Homo sapiens: one gene and its partners. The protein of the gene in region 2 interacts with the protein of the main gene of each other region in a pairwise test. Each region holds a gene or a part of one and is shown on either strand. Other genes may lie near its edges.

Region 1 (4,612 bases), on a different chromosome or scaffold from region 2:
ATGTGTCTGCTACAGACTTTGAGAAGGTTGATCTGACCCAGTTCAAGTGGATCCACATTGAGGTAAGCCCTGCCTTACCTGTGTTTCAAGGGGCTCAACCTGCCAGCCTCCTCCACATGTTCTGCCTCCTTGGTTTCTTTGAATCATGAAGTACCTTAGAGATAAATGAACCCAACCCCCTCATTCTCTCTCCATCTTTCCTTATGTCTTCAGGTGAGAAAACTAAGGCCCAGAAAGATTAGATGACTTACTCAAGGTCACACAGCAGAACGTAAGCACAGCTGGCTCCAGGCAAAGTCCTGTGCTTTCTGTGCTACGGGCTGCCCCATTGCCTCCAACTCTGCCTCTGGCGGATGTCTGACTGCTTAGGGCCTGACCCATTACCTCTGGGGAAGCAGGAAGGACAGGGCCTGACTCAGCTCCCAAATAAAGGGAACTAGAGCCTTTACTCCAAGAGAGGTTTTGGAGTCTGGGTGGAAGGAAATCCTGAGAAGTCCTGAGTTCTAGCTCCATCATTTAACCTATGGTAGGTCTTTCACAGTATCTTTTATTCTTTAGTCTTCTCATCTGTGGAATGGAGTAGCTGGTTGATAAGGTCTTCAAAGTCCACGACAGCTCTGAATGTTGTAATTTAGGATGGGGTTCTAGCCCAGCCTCCCCGAGGCCCTCTCCCTCCTCACCCAGAGTTTCAGCGGGGCAGGAAGAATGAGGCAGATTGGCCAGGCAGTGCCCAGCGGTCCTGAGCTGCCCTGTCCTGTACCAGGGCCGGAACGCATCGGAGCAGGTGAAGATGCTGCAGCGGATAGACGCACACAACACCAGGCAGCCTCCAGAGCAGAAGATCCGGGTGTCCGTGGAGGTGGAGAAGCCACGAGAGGAGCTCTTCCAGCTGTTTGGCTACGGAGACGTGGTGGGTGCCCCATTCAGCCTCTCTTTGCCACTTCCAGCTAATTTGGTTCTTAAAGGGAGCCAGAATCCTTTTATCCTGCCTACCACAATTGGAATAGTGGTTCCTGGTTTGGTGGTGTTTGAAGATGGGGGATGGGGGTTAAAGCAAAGAAGTAGACCCCTAGCCTTGGGCTCCAGTGCAGGCCTCAGCAGTGAGCAAGGAGTAGAATGTCTCCACCCCAGGTGGGTGCATAGGTGTAAGAATGCCCAGAGGGCTTGGGTAGGGCTTAAACAGCCACAGGGCAAGCCTGTGTGGAAGCATCTCCTCTCTGGGGCTCCCCAGTCTTTTCCTCTGCAGAATGAGGGCACACAACTGTTCTCTGAGGTTTCTTCCAACTCAGGGGTGTCTGGCAGGTTGTGGGGGCTGCTAGGGTGAGGGAAGGGTGGGAAGGAGACTTGCATGAGTCTCTTTTTGAAAAGGCTGGATGTAAATGGAATTTGGGAAGTAATCCCAGCATCATAGCAGAAGTTGGTTGGAGACCATCCAGCCAAGGTCCTCAACCTTGTGACTTGTCCTCAACCTTGGCTGCATATTAAAAAAGATGAATGCAGGCCAAGTGTAGTGGCTCACACTTGTAATCCCAGAGCTTTGGGAAGCTGAGGTAGGAGGATTGCTTGATGCCAGGAGTCCAAGACCAGCCTGGACAACATAGCAAGACCCCTGTCTCTATGAAAATAAATTAGGCCAAGAGCAGTGACTCATACCTGTAATCCCAGCACCTTGGGAGGCCAATGCAGGAGGATCACTTCAGCCAGTCATTCAAGATTGCAAGACCCTGTCTCTATACAAAAAAAAAAAAAAAAAATTCCTGGCATGGTGGTGTGCACCCATAGTCCCAGCTACTCAGGAGGCTGAGGCAGGAGGATTGCAGTGCCTGAGCCCCACCATCTTGTTTTTGATTGGCAGGGGTAGAGCCAAGGCTTCGGTGTTTTGTTTTTTGTTTTTACCAAAACTTTCTCTGGAGATTCTAAAGTGTAGGTAGTGTTGAGGGAGCCTCTTTGTTTTCCAGATGAAGAAACCATACCTAGAGGACATAGTTGTGGGAAAAACCAGCAAAACTGCTCCAGGGAGCCAGCATGGCGGTGGTAGATTCCACCCCAAGGTGGCGCTCAAGGCTTTCTGTGGGTTTTCAATCCATTGATCAGAGAACAAACGGACCAGGCCTTTTGTTTTACAATTTACAAGGCTGTATTCTATTATATATAAGCATCGATAAAAATATGCTTCTGGCCAGGTGCAGTGACTCACACCTGTAATCCCAGAAATTTTGGGAGGCTGAGGCAGGAAGATCATATGGGGCCAGGAGTTCAAGACCAGCCTCAGGGAGACCATCTTCACAAAAAATAAAGAAAAAAGAAAACCACGTTCCCGTGGGACAGTGAGATGCTACGTTGGGGATCTATGTGGACATGTTGGGGGAGTCGTGTTGTAATGGGGGCAACGCTAGGCTGCTGTTGGTGAATGACGAGTTAGAAGTGACCACCAGCTTCTCTTCCACTGCCCACAGGTGTTTGTCAGCAAAGATGTGGCCAAGCACTTGGGGTTCCAGTCAGCAGAGGAAGCCTTGAGGGGCTTGTATGGTCGTGTGAGGAAAGGGTGAGCCGGGGAAGCCAGGAAGGGGCTTTAGAAGGTACAGGATGAGCCTGGACTCCAGGAGTCCGCCCTGGAGCTGGGAGGATGGCTGGGGGGACGGGGTGGGCTAACACCCAGCTGAGTGGAGCCGTCTTGCAGGGCTGTGCTTGTCTGTGCCTGGGCTGAGGAGGGCGCCGACGCCCTGGGCCCTGATGGCAAATTGCTCCACTCGGATGCTTTCCCGCCACCCCGCGTGGTGGATACACTGGGAGCTGGAGACACCTTCAATGCCTCCGTCATCTTCAGCCTCTCCCAGGGTGAGTATGGCAGCAGGAGGGGAAAAGGACTGGGACCTGTCCCTGCCCCAAACACCTGGCTGACCTAGCTACTTGCCCCTCCTCCAGGGAGGAGCGTGCAGGAAGCACTGAGATTCGGGTGCCAGGTGGCCGGCAAGAAGTGTGGCCTGCAGGGCTTTGATGGCATCGTGTGAGAGCAGGTGCCGGCTCCTCACACACCATGGAGACTACCATTGCGGCTGCATCGCCTTCTCCCCTCCATCCAGCCTGGCGTCCAGGTTGCCCTGTTCAGGGGACAGATGCAAGCTGTGGGGAGGACTCTGCCTGTGTCCTGTGTTCCCCACAGGGAGAGGCTCTGGGGGGATGGCTGGGGGATGCAGAGCCTCAGAGCAAATAAATCTTCCTCAGAGCCAGCTTCTCCTCTCAATGTCTGAACTGCTCTGGCTGGGCATTCCTGAGGCTCTGACTCTTCGATCCTCCCTCTTTGTGTCCATTCCCCAAATTAACCTCTCCGCCCAGGCCCAGAGGAGGGGCTGCCTGGGCTAGAGCAGCGAGAAGTGCCCTGGGCTTGCCACCAGCTCTGCCCTGGCTGGGGAGGACACTCGGTGCCCCACACCCAGTGAACCTGCCAAAGAAACCGTGAGAGCTCTTCGGGGCCCTGCGTTGTGCAGACTCTATTCCCACAGCTCAGAAGCTGGGAGTCCACACCGCTGAGCTGAACTGACAGGCCAGTGGGGGGCAGGGGTGCGCCTCCTCTGCCCTGCCCACCAGCCTGTGATTTGATGGGGTCTTCATTGTCCAGAAATACCTCCTCCCGCTGACTGCCCCAGAGCCTGAAAGTCTCACCCTTGGAGCCCACCTTGGAATTAAGGGCGTGCCTCAGCCACAAATGTGACCCAGGATACAGAGTGTTGCTGTCCTCAGGGAGGTCCGATCTGGAACACATATTGGAATTGGGGCCAACTCCAATATAGGGTGGGTAAGGCCTTATAATGTAAAGAGCATATAATGTAAAGGGCTTTAGAGTGAGACAGACCTGGATTAAAATCTGCCATTTAATTAGCTGCATATCACCTTAGGGTACAGCACTTAACGCAATCTGCCTCAATTTCTTCATCTGTCAAATGGAACCAATTCTGCTTGGCTACAGAATTATTGTGAGGATAAAATCATATATAAAATGCCCAGCATGATGCCTGATGTGTACAAGGCTCTCAAAAAGTTCTAGTGATGATTAATATTACTGGGGATGGGGTCACCTGCCCTGAGCTGCAGGAGAGCATGGGGTGTCTGAACACCAGGTGAGGGGGAACCGGTGAGGGTTTGGGGCCCAGGGATAGACTGAGCTTTCCTCACTGGGTCCTCTGCAGCCGGCCATGGCTAGCACCATGCGCTCTGCTGCCGGAGCACCGTGAGGCCCAGAAACACTGGGCAGGCGGCATCCCTGTCCTTTCGGTCCCCAACCCCGTTCCTCTGAGAGGGTCTGGGCAGGCTGGACGGGTAGAGAGGTGGCCGGGGGGATGAATTCATTCAGTTCTTTATTGGTAATCTGCCCCTTAACTTAGGGTCTCCCTGAGCTGCACAGAAAGACCTGATACCTACTGGGACCAGGCAGGGGGCACAGAGATGGTCCTTGTCCCAGCGTACATTTCCCCTGCCCACTTCAGGGCTTATGTTCTGGCACTGAGACTTCGTGGGGTACCTGTATCTTCAAGATCTAGATCTCATCATTCTCCACTTGAACAATGTGCACCTCAAAGTCATTTTGGGTGTTCTTAGACTCCAGTGTTTCCCC
Region 2 (7,121 bases):
AGCCTAGAATGACACGATTCCAAATTTCCATTCCAGAGCTTCCCAGTTCTAATGATTTCCACCACAACATGCCTTGCAGTCACACTGCAACAGAAAATGAGATGATATTTATATGTGGCTAATAAAAAAACAATACTTTGACTCCCAAAAAAGGGTTATTATAAAAGAATGTGTGGTAGATTCCACTGGGATTTTGCTAAATAAAGCTATTTATGTTTTAGGTGATGAAAAATCACCTAAGTTTTAAAAGTATTTGCTTTGGGTCCTTTATTATGGAGTTTTATCCTTATTTGAGGTATCAAAAACCTACCCACTATGTAAGTCAGTATTAAGGTGGCTATTCAACCAAAGCACACAGACACTAACTCTCAGTGAAGCTTTTTGCCCAAGATCAATCTGCCAGAAGTTAGACTAACCCAGGCAACTGGGAGGTAGAAGCTATGAAAATTTAGTGTCCTGCTCTCAACTAAGAGGTCCACATTTTTCTATTCCACACCAAACAGTAAATGTGCAGTTGCCCAGACTCAAAGACTGCTTTACATCACAGTAAAGCACAACAGACCTTCCAGCTCTGCATCACACGCTTCCTCTTCCCACTCACATAATTAGTACTCCTTTCTCTCTCTCTCTCTTTTTTTTTTTTTTTTTGGTTTTAAAAAATGTGCCTGTTTCAAATTTGTATTTTTTTTTCAGATGTCTAATTTCAGTTATGTTCTTTCCCTCTCTGGTCTCTTCCTGCATTTCACATACCAGACAAATATTTAAAGGTCTGTAAAACCAGGCGAAGTTCCAAAATACTTCTAAATGAAATTGCCACAGGTGACAGAACAGGGAAAGAAGGCAAGACTGTAGGGCAAAGATTTGAATAAACTGGCTGGAAATGCATTGGAAAATCTATTTAAGTTGCTATAGCTGTGGATGAGGTTTCAATGAGGCATAAACATTCAAGTTACTGACAAAACCAGCATGATTTGTGATCACTCAAAATAGTCTACTTGTCATGGTGCATTGCTTTTTTTTATTAGTAAGTTGCTCTCTCTTCTTTAAAATTTTTTCTTTTTATTATTCAGGAAGTGAAAGCATTTAAGAAAACATTCAAAATTCTGAGAATACATGTAAGTGAAATATTTAATGTCTGTCATTCATAAAAGTTACATCATTTACATAGGGTTCATTTGTATATAATAAAAATTTCATCATAATGAAAAATTTTCTGGAAAGTATATGTTAGTTTGTTTAACATATGCTTTGGATATACGGCTAAATAGGAATAGCTAAAATTTTATTCTTCAAATATTCCCTTTAACAATTAAAAAAAACCTCATTCCTAAATATTTGTCTGTCTTTCCATTTGCTTTTTTGTTTGTAATAATCATATGTAATTGAACTATGCAAAGATTGGATCTTTTTATAGTTCAGAATATATTTGTATACATCAATAAATTTGTTCATTGCATAGCAAACATGTAAACTCACATAGGATCTATAAATTTTACCCTAGTAATCTAAAAAAGTTGCTGAAATTTTACACAATAGTTTATTCTAAGGTTTATTTTGTTGTAATTTGGGTTCACTTTGTTTTTTATTTTTAATACATGTGGCAATTGAATACAACAAATGAAAATAAGTCATGAAAAGGTAAAAACCAAGTAAGTAATTTTATCCTAGATTACCAGAATTTAATCTCACTATGCTGTTTGTATTTTTTCATTAGTATAACAAGTTGTAAATGTACTGTGCTGCCTCTTTAAGTGTTCAAAATTAATTTCAACAGCATGTGTTTAACATAAAGTTAACTATGTTTGCATCAAATAAATGTTTATTAATGAAAGCTATTTATCATACAAGAAACAGCAAAGATAAGTCATCATACAGAGGTGTACACTAGAGGTGACATATGTAAAAGTGCATGCAGAGATTTCTGTTTAAAAAGGAAGTGATAAACAATAATGCTAAAATTACTGGGGTTTGATCCCTATACTCTTAAATGGGTGATAGCTTTTCTTTGAATTTACAGTTGGAAAATGCCATTAACAGGACTAATACACATTAGCAAGCAGGTGAAATGAATGTTTTGGACTTTATTTTACAACTGTGCTTGACAAATGTGTGAAATTTTTTTCAATAATAATTTTTTTCAAATATGGGGTGGGCATATTACTGCCAGGTTGCTCTGGTTTTGTACATGGTTTATCTAATTTTGTTTAAACCACATAATTTTAGGCCTTCAGTTGTGTTAGACACCATAAAGAACACAAGTTTCGTTAACATTCAGTAAATGACATTTAAGTCTCTCTCTCTCTCTTTTTTTTTGGCTTAATAAATTTTTTAATGTATGATTATCATAACCTAATAGTGTCTTTGTCTTCACTGCAGTGGATTTCCGATCAAACTTTTCCCCTTCTTTTAATACTTTAGGGAATTTTCAAACGTCGGGATGTTTGGCTGTAATGCCCCAAGATTTGTTCTCCCTGAAAAAAATCATAGTGACAATTTATTAACTACAGAGCAACTTGGCTTTTAGGGGTCTGCAATTTCTATTTAGATTTACAAATATCCATTTGTGCTCAATAGACCTAACATGAAATCTTAATCATATTTAAGGTTTCGTTCCATGCAATTACTTTATATGCTAATTAGCCTTTTTATTCTAAAAATTGGACTGAGTCAAATCAGTGGGGCATTACTTTTGTTATAAGCAAATATATTCAAAGGTATTTCTAGGTTGAATTACACTGCCTGTGCAACAATGTGTAACATTTCATATGAATCAGAAGTTTGGAAGTCTAAAAACTATTTGTATGTTTAAATATTTCTAACAATGTTGTATTACCATTTGAAAAGCTTTTACATATAGATGCTGGAACACACTAGTACGGTTAAAACTTAAATAAAACTGATGGGAAAGAAAACTCCTTAGATTCAAAATGTTTTATTCACACAAATTTAATAGGATATATCACAATTGTTTGGTCCATAAATATTTAGGGGAAATAGTTTCTATACAATGCATTTATCAATAAACAAAGAAACATGGACAATTTTGCTAGACCACTTACTGTACTATAAACACGAAGCTCAATATATAAGATTATTGAATTTATCAACTATATTTGAAAGAGTGCACAACTGCTTTCTATGACATGTTTGTCCCCTCTAACAGGATACACCATAAAAAGAGTTTCAGAAATAAGAGGTAAAACAGTACAAAACTAGTGAGGTGTTAAAAGGGCTTAAAACAGTTAATTTAACAAACAACACATATATCCTGATTTTTCACAAACTTACTTCCAAGTTATATCATAAGGCACATAGGAGAACTGAGTTATAATTAGTCTACTTAATAAAGTAGATCTATATAGTACCATATATTGTTCTGTCAAAGAACAAAATTTATAAGTGTCAATATTTTACCTGTAAAAGTGTATTAATAAGATCTCAGCCTTACCAAGGTTGTTTGGTCTGGTTAGTGGTAAATGCCCAAAATGTAATAGAAGTATGAAAAGTCAAGATTTAAGCTCCATATAAGATGATAACCATACTTGCTAAATATATAATGGCAATCACACCTTTCTTCTGTTACAGTGTTAACTTATCTTCCATCATCTTTTTTTAAAAAATAAGCTACTTTCTGTGCTAATTTTCTAAAGACCCTGAGCAAAAGTTACAATAATGCACTTTAATGTGGGCAGTGAACTGTCAATATGTAACCACACATTTATACAGCCAGAAGGACACCTTTAAAATCTATTAAATAGCCACTTCGACCACCAAAGGAGATTTAAGGGGTCCAAAAAGTGGAAAATATGTGCAAAGTTATTCTTAACAATCCACTAAAGCAAGACATATATCTTGACTTCTTTTTTATTTTTTTAGGAAATCCACAATCTAATTGGTATTTAACTACAACAGAAGCGTAATAGATGAACATTCACCACTGCCCAGACCATTAAGATTTTAGCTTAAATTAAAAGAAAAAAATGCTACTGTAAACTAGGAAATATATTCAGATCAGCATCCACAAGGCTTCTGAGTTTATCTACTTTAAGACTAATAACTTCAAATCTCTAATATCAGAAAAATTATTTTCAATACATAAGTCAACCTATGTCAAAATAAAATAAAACAAAACAAAACCAATTGTTGGTATAAGTCTACCAGGCTGGGTATTTTAAACATTATTCATATAGAATGCCAGATACAATATCATGGTACAGCTGAAGCCAATTAATAGAGCTATTAATTAAATTATATTGATTTTTTTACTTCTTAAAACATTATATTTTGCTTATTTCCATTTTCCCTGGGAAAAAAAGTAACTAGAAAGAATGGTTTCCGAGCTATTGTTTTTAGCTTTAGGAGGTTAAAAGTATGGAATGTCAAAATCAATGCGGAATTTTCATGGATACATAGGGAGCTTAAGTATTTTTCAAATGTTGAAAAACAAATAACCAAGTAAAAAGTTTTTAGAGTTGTACACCCCTAAGAGAAGGAAAAGTCACATTCCTGTAATAGATTTCTCACCTAATTAATCATTACTATTTAAAATGTCTGTAGTTAATGCTTTTATTTCATCATATTCCTCACTTGAATTAACAGTTCAGGTAAGAAATAGAAATACTAAAAACAAGTTTTCAGTTTTAAGATTTAAAAAATGTAACGTTTTCAAAACTCCATAATCACACATACAATTGCAAGATTTAAAAAGTAACTAATTAATTATCTGGTTCTTTATTAACCTAATCATTTAAGTGGGAATATGATTATTTGCCCATAATAATACCACTCTTTTTTCTTTTTTCTTCGAGATTCTGGAAATAAGTAACATACAATTTTAAGAGGCACTTATTAGAATTATTCAAAAACTCTCCTTACCAACTGAAAGACCTAATTAATTTTTTTAAATCCAAATACACTTTGTAGACAAAATATATTCACTTAAAGGAGACAATACTGTAAACTCATTTGCCAAGTGGCTGCAGATGCTACACACCAAGCTGTTATTTTTATTCCCCAAATATCTTGTGGGTTAGAAGAAAAAAAAAGTCTTGTAAATAATAAAATAATAATAATTAGAATAATAATAAAAAGAAGAGGAAGAATTTAAAAACTAAAAAAAAAAAACCAATGTTAGAAAAGGTTTGTTAAGGTAGTTTGTGAGGGGCTTCCGGATTCGTGGCTGTCCATGTTAGAGGTCACGGATGTCACTACAGTGATAGTGGGATTGGTCAGGTCTGTTAAAGTGGTCGCAGTGCCGGGTGGAGTGAGAGCTCCGCTGTCTGCTGAGGGCGGGGCCGGAAGCGACGTGCCGTCAGCTTTATCAACACCCCCATTCTCCTGCCGCAAAAGGTTCCTTCTGAATTTGGCTCGTGCGTTTTGGAACCAAACCTGCAAACCAATCCCAATTGATTTCTTTACCGATGTTCATTTTTATATTTCTTTTCTTTCTCTCTCACTTTTTCTTTTTTTCTTTTTCTTTCTTTCTTTTTTTTTTTTGATATAGGTTTCTCCTTTTAAATATCATTGTTTGTCTTTCTTAGGAGGAAAGGGGCTTTTTTTTCTTTTCTTTTAAAACAGAGTTATTCAAGTAACACTACAGATTTATTATCTCTCAACTGCACTTATTCCACCCTGTAGCATTAACAAGTGCCACTTGGAACAACTGATGCTTAAGTGGATATACCATGGAAATGAACACATGGTGATAAAAAGGGGGAAATACACGGTGATTCCTCAACTGTTATCTTTTGAGAAGAGGTAGAAGCAGGGCCATTGAAAGTATGGCAAAGTAAGAATCACTCATATGAAATGGACATCACTGAAACAGACTTCAAGCCATTCGTGAGCCCAACACACGGTATATATTCTTCACATAGAAAAAACTCCCAGGGCCACAGACCTCGAACAGCCTGAAACTGTTTAGCAGAATTTAAAATGCCTGCTATTTGTCACCAAGAAGTGAGAGAAGATCACAGGTGACTCACAGCAACCTATCATAATTTCATTAGTTATATGTTCTTGCCATGATGAGTTTAGGAAATCAATTGGACAGCAGAACTAACTTCCAATATTTTGTTTCTAATTATGGTTTGTTAAGGCAGGAAAATACTTGCTCCAATTGGTTGCTGAAACACTAACCATACTTTTGGCTTTTCAGGAGTGGAAAAAAGGTTCCACCTGAATTTGGAAGGTGAGTGAGGCTGCCAAAAGTTTGCCGAGTTAAGGCAGTGCCAACAGGTCCCTCTCAAGTCCGTGCACTGAGCATAATATTAATGGAAATCGATAAAGCCACGGCCTGTGCAAATAACATCACTCGCATTTGCACAGCAGTGAGACAAGCTGTGCTGCCTTTGGAGGGCCCATCTCCACATATGTAGAGAGAATGTGGCTGTATTTAAAAAGACCCTGGGTCTCTGTTTGGGAACCCTCCAGGAAGCCCCTGCAAAATCTCAGAACACCCTCTAGGGAGATAGCTAAGATAAACTAGTAAGAAGCAATATAGGAAATATCTGCGTCACTCTAACCAGGGAAGAGCACTATTTTTACTGGGAAGGGGAAGGGAAATGTATGCACAGTCAATGATGCATGTGTCTTACCTGCAAAACTCTTTTGGTCAGACCTGTTTTCTGGGCAAGCTGCTTGAGGTCCTTGGCATCCGGGTTGTGGTTGATGGCAAAGTAGGATTTCATGGTCCGGAGCTGGTGATGCTTGAAAGAGGTTCGCATGCGCTTGGTCTTCTGCGAGGGTGGATAAGGCTGCTGGTCCCGGTCCAAGTGGTCTGCCTCATTCTCATTACAACCTGTTGCAGTAACAGTGAACAAACAACTGCTCAGTGGAAATTCTTGCATTAGCTGACATGATGGCAGGCTGTATGACACTGCTATGGTAATAAAGCAGCAGTGAAAAAGGTTGTCAACCCAATTATGAGTAGTATCTAGACAAAAAGAAAGAAGATAATTGCTAAAGTAAGCTGAACTCTTCTGTTAATGTAGACACAACCAAAGTTTATGCAATAGAAAAATATTGGTTAAATCCTCTCTTTTGTTTAATGGTTGCTAGAAGAATTTGAGAATATGAACAAACCCTAAGTAGTAAGGTGGGAGTGAGAGAGACCTACGAGA
Region 3 (7,722 bases), on a different chromosome or scaffold from region 2:
ATATTGGAAGTTCTGACCAGGGTAATCAGGCAAGAGAAAGAAATAAAGGGTATTCTAATAGCAAGAGAGGAAGTCAAATTGTCTCTGTTAGCAGATGACATGATTGTATATTTAGAAAACCCCACCGTCTCAGCCCAAAATCTCCTTAAGCTGATAAGCAACTTCAGCAAAGTCTCAGGATACAAAATCAATGTGCAAAAATCACAAGCATTCCTATACACCAATAACAGACAAACAGAGAGCCAAATCATGAGTGAACTCCCATTCACAATTGCTACAAAGAGAATAAAATACCTAGGAATACAACTTATAAGAGATGTGAAGGAACTCTTCAAGGAGAACTACAAACCACTGCTCAAGGAAATAAGAGAGGACACAAACAAATGGAAAAACATTCCATGCTCATGGATAGGAAGAATCAATACTGTAAAAATGACCATACTGTCCAAAGTAATTTATAGGTGCAATGCTATCCCCATCAAGTTACCATTGACTTTCTTCACAGAATTAGAAAAAACTACTTTAAATTTCATATGGAACAAAAAAAGAGCCTGCATAGCCAAGACAATCCTAAGCAAAAAGAACAAAGCTGGAGGCATCACATTACCTGACTTCAAACTATACTACAAGGCTACAGTAACCAAAACAACATGGTGCTAGTACCAAAACAGATATATAGACCAATGGAACAGAACAGAGGCCTCAGAAATAACACCACACATCCACAACCATCTGATCTTTGACAAACCTGACAAAATCAAGAAATGGAGAAAGGATTCCCTATTTAATAAATGGTGTTGGGAAAACTGGCTAGGCATATGCAGAACACTGAAACTGGACCCCTTCCTTACACCTTATACAAAAATTAACTCAAGATGGATTAAAGACTTAAATGTAAGACCTAAAACCATAAAAACCCTAGAAGAAAACCTAGGCAATACCATTCAGGACATAGGCTTGGGCAAACACTTCATGACTAAAACACCAAAAGCAATGGCAACAAAAGCCGAAATTGGCAAATGGGATCTAATTAAACTAAAGAGCTTATGCACAGCAAAAGAAACTATCATCAGTGAACAGGCAACCTACAGAATGGGAGAAAATTTTTGCAATCTGTTCATCTGACAAAGGGCTAATATCCAGAATCTACAAAGAACTTCAACAAATTTACAAGAAAAAAACAACCCCATCAGAAAGTGGGCTAAGGGTATGAACAGACACTTTTCAAAAGAAGACATTTATGCAGCCAATAAACATATGAAAAAAAGCTCATCTTCACTGGTCATTAGAGAAATGCCAATCAAACCACAATGAGATACCATCTCATGCCAATTAGAATGGCGATCATTAAAAAGCCAGGAGACAACAGATGCTGGAGAGGATGTAGAGAAATAGGAATGCTTTTACACTGTTGGTGGGAGTGTAAACTAGTTCAACCATTGTGGAAGACAGTGTGGTGATTCCTCAAGGATCTAGAACCAGAAATAACATTTGTCCCAGCAATCCCATTACTGGGTATATACCCAAAGGATTATAAATCATTCTACTATAAAGACATGCACACGTACGTTTATCTCTGCACTGTTCACAATAGCAAAGACTTGGAACCAACCCGAATGCCCATCAATGATAGACTGGTTTAAGAAAATGTGTTACATATACACCATGGAATACTATGCAGCCATAAAAAGGATGAGTTTATGTCCTTTGCAGGGACATGGATGAAGCTGGAAACCATCATTCTCAGCAAACTAACACAAGAACAGAAAACCAAACACCGCATGTACTCATAAGTGGGAGTTGAACAATGAGAACACATGGACACAGAGAGGGAACATCACACACCAGGGCCTGTTGGGGGGTGAGGGGCTGGGGGAGGGATAGCATTAGGAGAAATACCTAATGTAGATGACGGGTTGATGGGTGCAGCATACCTCCATACCACGTGTATACCTATGTAACAAACCTGCACATTCTGTACATGTACCCCAGAACTTAAAGTATATATATATATATATATATATATATATATATATATATATATATATATATATATATAAAGAATGTGGGTACATGTCTAAAGGACACAGGAACCAGCTTGAAAGGGCTCTCACTGGCCTAACCTGGACCAATTTGAGGATCAAAATAAATACTGATAACGAATTTTTATCCCACTGAACAAAAACAGGAATCCACTGAGAAATTATGAATCTGTATTATATAAAAATAAATAACTTGAAAATTTGGTACATGATCTACATAGTTTCAAAGAACCACTTCACAAAATACTTATTATAGAAGGAAAAGAGGTACTTTACAGCAGAGAAGCTCTGCAGATGCCAGTTTATTTAAATGATCAGAATTAACATCACCTGTAATGGAACAAATGGAAATCATGCGCTACCCAACAGGATGCAGTAAGACCGCCTCACTTCTGTGATCGTCCTGCTTAAGAGGCCAAATTTGAATTTAATCACAAAAGAACCTCCGACAAACCCAAGTTGAGTGACATTCTATAACACAACTATCCTGCAATCTTCATGAAACTTTTGTAGTTAATTGTGATCATCTGACCTATTTCTGGATCATAGGATTTAAATGAAAGAAACTGAACTAGGCTTTAGGAAAAGCCATCATTTTTCTAATAAAAAATGAGGCCAGCTTAGCTAACAACGTTTACCCTTTGTCCTTTCTCTTTATTCTTGTTTATCAGATGCCGTGAACAGATGTGAAAGAATATGATACCCTGCTTGTGACTACAAATACTAAAGTCACAGACTGCAACAAAGCGAAAAAGGATAAACTATTTGGCTCCTTCAGCAATTGCACCAAGCCTGGACCAGTTACTTTTAGGCTCCTTGTTACGTTATCCTTTATTTGATTAAGCCATGTGACTGGATTCGCATTAGGTGTGGCCAAATGCAAACCTAGCCAAAATAACCTGCTTTTTCTTTCTTTTCTTTTCTTTTCTTTTTTCTATTTTAACATATCTAGTTCCCCTCTCTAACCCCAACTTTTTTTTGGGCAGTTTTATTTGTATTGCATGGTATTTACAAATTAATTGAGAAATGATTTTTTATGATGTTTTCTTCTTTAAGCACATAGTATACCTCTCCATTCGTTCTAGTCTTTTTGGGGAGCTTATGCAAGATTTTAAAGTTTTCTTCATATAACTTTGCACATTGCTCTAGACCGAATGTTTGTTTCCCCAAAATTCTTATGTTGAAATCTAATCCCCAATGTGCTGGTATATGGAGGTAGGGACTCTGGGAGGTGATTAGGTCATGAGAGCAGCACCCTCATGAATTCCTATAAAAGAAGTTCTAGAGAGATCCCTCTCCCTTTCCGCCATATGAGACACAGCAAAAATACTGCCCTCTAGGAACCAGGACACACCTTCACTAGACAGCAAATAGCCCAACACCTTGATTTTATCCAGCCTCCAGAACTGTAAGACATACTTGTTTGTTATTTATAAGCCATCCATTCTATAATATTTTGTTATAGCAGCCTGAACTGATTAAAACACACACGTTTCTAATATAATCACAGTTTATTTTTATTGAATTGATGCAAAACAGTGAAATGGATGTTTTTCTGAATTCCAAGAGAATCTGAAAAGACGTTGATGCTAGTTATGACAAATATCAGTCAATGTAGTCAGTTGATTAAATATTACAAGGTCGATTAGTAAATTACATTTTAAAATAAAATGAATACTTTCTATTGCATATCAAACAAGTAGGCATTGTGTGTTCAAGATTCAGACTCATAGAATGGTAGTGAATGTAAAAACTCTTGGAAAGCTTCTTGCAAACACACATTAAATTTTATGAAACCTGAAGAGAAAGAGTATTTACCTCAACCTGGCTTATGTTACTTATTTTTAGCGTCTTTAAGGTATCGTTTATAATTAATTCCCCAGCCTTCTTCTTCTTGTAAATGTAAGCTTAGTGTCTTATGTTCTCAAAGCACTTCATCACCTTAGAATGTCTTATTCTTCTGAACTTAAAAGTTTTATGTTTGGGCGATACATGCGTAAAACAAAACAAAGAAATCTCCGCAGAAATAAATAAGTAACTGTCCATTGTAATGAAAAATGCTTGGATGGATAAGTATGAGTAAATAATATGGGGTCAGAGGAAAAAATATAATGTAAACTTCTAACAAGTTAAGCACGGGTAAATTGTGAAGTGCAATGCAAAATTCACATGAGTGTTTCATATATTAAGTAAAATCCACCAAAACAAAACACTGAATCTTCAAGGCAATTCTGTCCTTCCTGCCAGCTGCCACTACCTTTCTGGCAGCCTCCCTTTATCCCATTCCTCCAGCACAGGGAAATGATGCTCTGGCGACAAAGGGTACTTCCGCAGAAAACTTTTGAGAGGTACCAACTTAACTTCCAAGAGCTTGTAACTTACTCCGGTGATTTTAAGACGAAATTGGTGAGAAAGCTGTTAATATAGTAAAAAGTGCATAATAAATATATACGGGTATTAATCCTGCTCACAATCGCACCCAACACCTGAAAGAATTAAACCCTCCAACACCCTTCGGGTCTTTAAAATCTGGGCTGCGGTAATCCGAGCCCTAAGCGACCTCAGATGTGCGCATGCCCTGTTGGTGGAGCCGTGCTCCTCCTTCCTCGGGTCCGGAAGTCCCGGTTTGTTTGTTAAATTACGACCGTCGTAAACTAGAATTTTCTTGCGGCTTCTTAGCTTTACGATGGCAACAAGTATGGCGGCTGCTAGTGGTAGATTTGAAAGTGCGAAGAGTATCGAAGAGCGGAAAGAACAGACCCGGAATGCCAGGGCCGAGGTGTTGCGCCAGGTACCTCTGTTTTGGGGCTTTTGTAGTTATTTATTGTTGTGGGAGTTGAGGGTTCCCGTAAGCTAGCCCACTCACCCCTTCCCTTACCTCGTCAGTACTGAATCTCACCTTAATTTGGGTGAGTTCTCCCTTTGCAATGCCGGTAAACCCTTTTGTAGCTACCGATTTTTTAGATGTTCTGGCAGGTGCCAGTTGCTAATTCTCTTTTCAGGCAGATCTGTCGCTTTTTCTCCAAGTTTCTTTACCTTTTAAGTTACCCATTCTTTACATTTCTATCACTCGGACTGCACACTTTGTAGGTCCCCTGCGGCTTGTAAGGACTCTGCCAGCATGTCTCGCAGCCTCAGTCATTGCTACTGCTGTATCTGAAATGAGATTTTCCTTTTTCGGAAACACATTCAAGTCACACTTGAATAGACTCAGTTTGACATTTCCTCCTCCTGTCTCTATTGGTATCAATTCCAGACTTACTGTAAGCTCTTACCAATCCAAACAAAAGTTAACACCAATCTCAGTATATTTAGCCTGTCACAAAAGATCGCGAAACATTGTATTTCTCACTAAACTTCAGATACATAGAGGTAACATACAAAGAATGGAGAAAGTAAGCTTCTGAATTATCTGACAATCTATTCAATATGTAAGAAGTGTGGCAATGAAAGAGAAAAGTTGCAGTTGGAGAGCAACAGAGAATTCAGTGAGGGTTTTTGTTTTTATTTAAGTTGGAAGAGTTTTAAACAAGTTTAAATGCAAATGAGAAGGAGCCAGCAGAGAAGAGGGAGAGGAGACTCTAAAGGGAAAATGACATAGTTTCAAAATTTGGCAAATAATTTGAGGGTGAAGCAGCCCCATTCTCCTTTAATCTCCAATTTTCTCACCCTGTTCTTTGGAGTCCATCATAAGCCCTGCTCTTTTCTCTGATATCGATTTTTCTGTTTGGTATATAACCATTGTATTCATCTTCTTGCCTACACCAAGAATTATTATATGCACCCAGGGAAAAGCTAGCTGCAGAATGTTGGACTACCTCTCCATGATTTTCCCTTTTCTGGAATATTAACTCTTCTAGTTCTTGTTGCTTCAGCAGTTCTCTGATATAAACCTTTAATAAATTATTTTTATATTTGATTAAAAAAAAAAAGAAAATGACTACAGCCAGGTTTTAAAGGGGAAGAGTGGGCGATTAGTCTTGGGTAGGTGAAATGTTGGTATTGTTTCGTAATTTCAACATATGTAATGTGTGTGTGTGGGTATATATATATTATTCATTCTTTTCTCTTTGGTATTTCCAGCAGTTTTTGGAGGGAGTAAGTTTCGTAAGTTGAGATAAATCTTATAGTAGAGATATGCATAGAATTTGAAAAGGACCAAACTGAGCTTTGGAGTTACAGGGAAAGAAAGAGGGCAGGAACGATTTCCTAGGAAAAACTTGCTTTGTTTGACTATCATTGAAGAATGGATAAAAATTACCAATATGATCCTTTCTTTATACAGAGATGATTCTTCCTGAGGCATTTTTGGGGCTGGGTATTGGGGCTACAGGCATTGCATATTGAAGGCGTGGAGGTCTAACTGTTGCAAAAGTCTTAAGGCAGTAGCCATGGGAATGGTGAAGGGAAAAGGGATTCCAAGTCATATTGAGCTAGGGAGCTTAGAGAGATGGGAGGGCCTGGACTCAGTCCCTGGATTCTCTCTGATTGGTAACTCAAATCACTGGAGATTGGAAATGCAGAAGGAGAGATTTTTGCTTTGTTTTGTTTATTTATTTATTTTTTTATTTTTTTACACTGGAGAAGCAAATCCCTGGCAAGGAATAGACATTCATTCATGAGTGGATATTTTTGTATAAAAATGACAGAGGTTTTTGTTTTCCTTTTTTTGTGAAACCCAGTTGGGTCAATTGCCAGTTTGTCTTTTTTTTTTCTTTGGTTGTAGGCTAAAGCCAATTTTGAAAAAGAAGAAAGGCGTAAAGAACTTAAGCGACTTCGGGGTGAGGATACATGGATGCTACCTGATGTGAATGAGAGAATTGAACAGTTCTCACAGGTGAATACTAACAGGTTTACGTGATGTAAGGATATCTGTCCTTTTTTGCACGTATTCAAGTTAATATTGGATGAATAATTTTATAGAATGTTTTCATAAGTTACAAAATGAATATCACATAGTTGGCATTGCTGAATAGTTTCATCTCTTTGGCAGAGGTAAGATATTGTAATATTTTGGACATTATGACTCAAGTTTTGTTATTTGAGTTTGGCTAGTAGAAGACAGCTTCAAATTTCTGGCCCACTATAGCAAGCTTATAGGCCTAAAAATTTATGCATTTTAAGCTTTATGTATTTATTTTATTTTATTTTTTTAGGTCTCAAGCCTGTTTTCCTATAATTTTTTTAAAAATTATTTTTAATTGACAAATAATAATTGTGTAAATTTATGGGTTAGAGTGTGATGGTTTGATCTATGTATACATTATAGAAAGATTCAGTCAAGCTAATGAACATATCCATCACCTCATCAACTTATTTTTTTGTGGTGAGAACGTTAAAAGTCTGTTCTTCAATGGCTTTGAAATAGATAATACCTTATTATTAAATGTGGTCATCAGTAATAGATCACTAAAACTTATTTCTAGTGTCATGAAAACTTTGTACCCTTTGATCAACATCTTCCCTTTCCCTATCCTTGCTCCTTCCCCTAGCCTCTTCCTATAATTTTAATTTGTGCTATCTTGTTATATTTTTTATGGCCTAATAGTCTTGTATAAATTTTTGGGGAGACCATAGAGGGATATTATATGTATGTGTGTTTGTGTGTGTATAGATGCATGTATACATGTTTGTGTATATATGTGTTTATTTGATTATATTTGTCACATTAATCTACAAA

What was found.
Region 1: the proteins of LHX9 (region 2) and KHK interact in binary tests that used the Homo sapiens proteins (3 or more experiments, as listed by UniProt).
Region 3: the proteins of LHX9 (region 2) and CWF19L2 interact in binary tests that used the Homo sapiens proteins (3 or more experiments, as listed by UniProt).

What each region holds. Positions count from the first base shown.
Region 1 is NC_000002.12:27,096,740-27,101,351, forward strand, and holds the end of KHK (ketohexokinase), read left to right. Parts: coding exon 1-62; intron 63-763; coding exon 764-910; coding exon of another isoform or gene 911-1,324; exon of another isoform or gene 1,325-1,339; intron 1,340-2,456; coding exon 2,457-2,545; intron 2,546-2,613; exon of another isoform or gene 2,614-2,680; coding exon 2,681-2,838; exon of another isoform or gene 2,839-2,925; coding exon 2,926-3,011; 3' UTR 3,012-3,044; coding exon of another isoform or gene 3,045-3,101; 3' UTR 3,102-3,696; coding exon of another isoform or gene 3,697-3,803; 3' UTR 3,804-4,023; downstream 4,024-4,612. Other genes in the region: CGREF1 (cell growth regulator with EF hand domain protein 1 isoform a precursor), read right to left, coding at 4,535-4,612. UniProt on the Homo sapiens protein: Catalyzes the phosphorylation of the ketose sugar fructose to fructose-1-phosphate.
Region 2 is NC_000001.11:197,927,269-197,934,389, reverse strand, and holds part of LHX9 (LIM/homeobox protein Lhx9), read right to left. Parts: intron 6,800-7,121; coding exon 6,597-6,799; intron 5,389-6,596; coding exon 5,131-5,388; 3' UTR 2,472-5,130; coding exon of another isoform or gene 2,415-2,471; 3' UTR 1-2,414. UniProt on the Homo sapiens protein: Involved in gonadal development.
Region 3 is NC_000011.10:107,454,823-107,462,544, reverse strand, and holds the start of CWF19L2 (CWF19-like protein 2), read left to right. Parts: upstream 1-4,719; 5' UTR 4,720-4,728; coding exon 4,729-4,833; intron 4,834-6,768; coding exon 6,769-6,879; intron 6,880-7,722.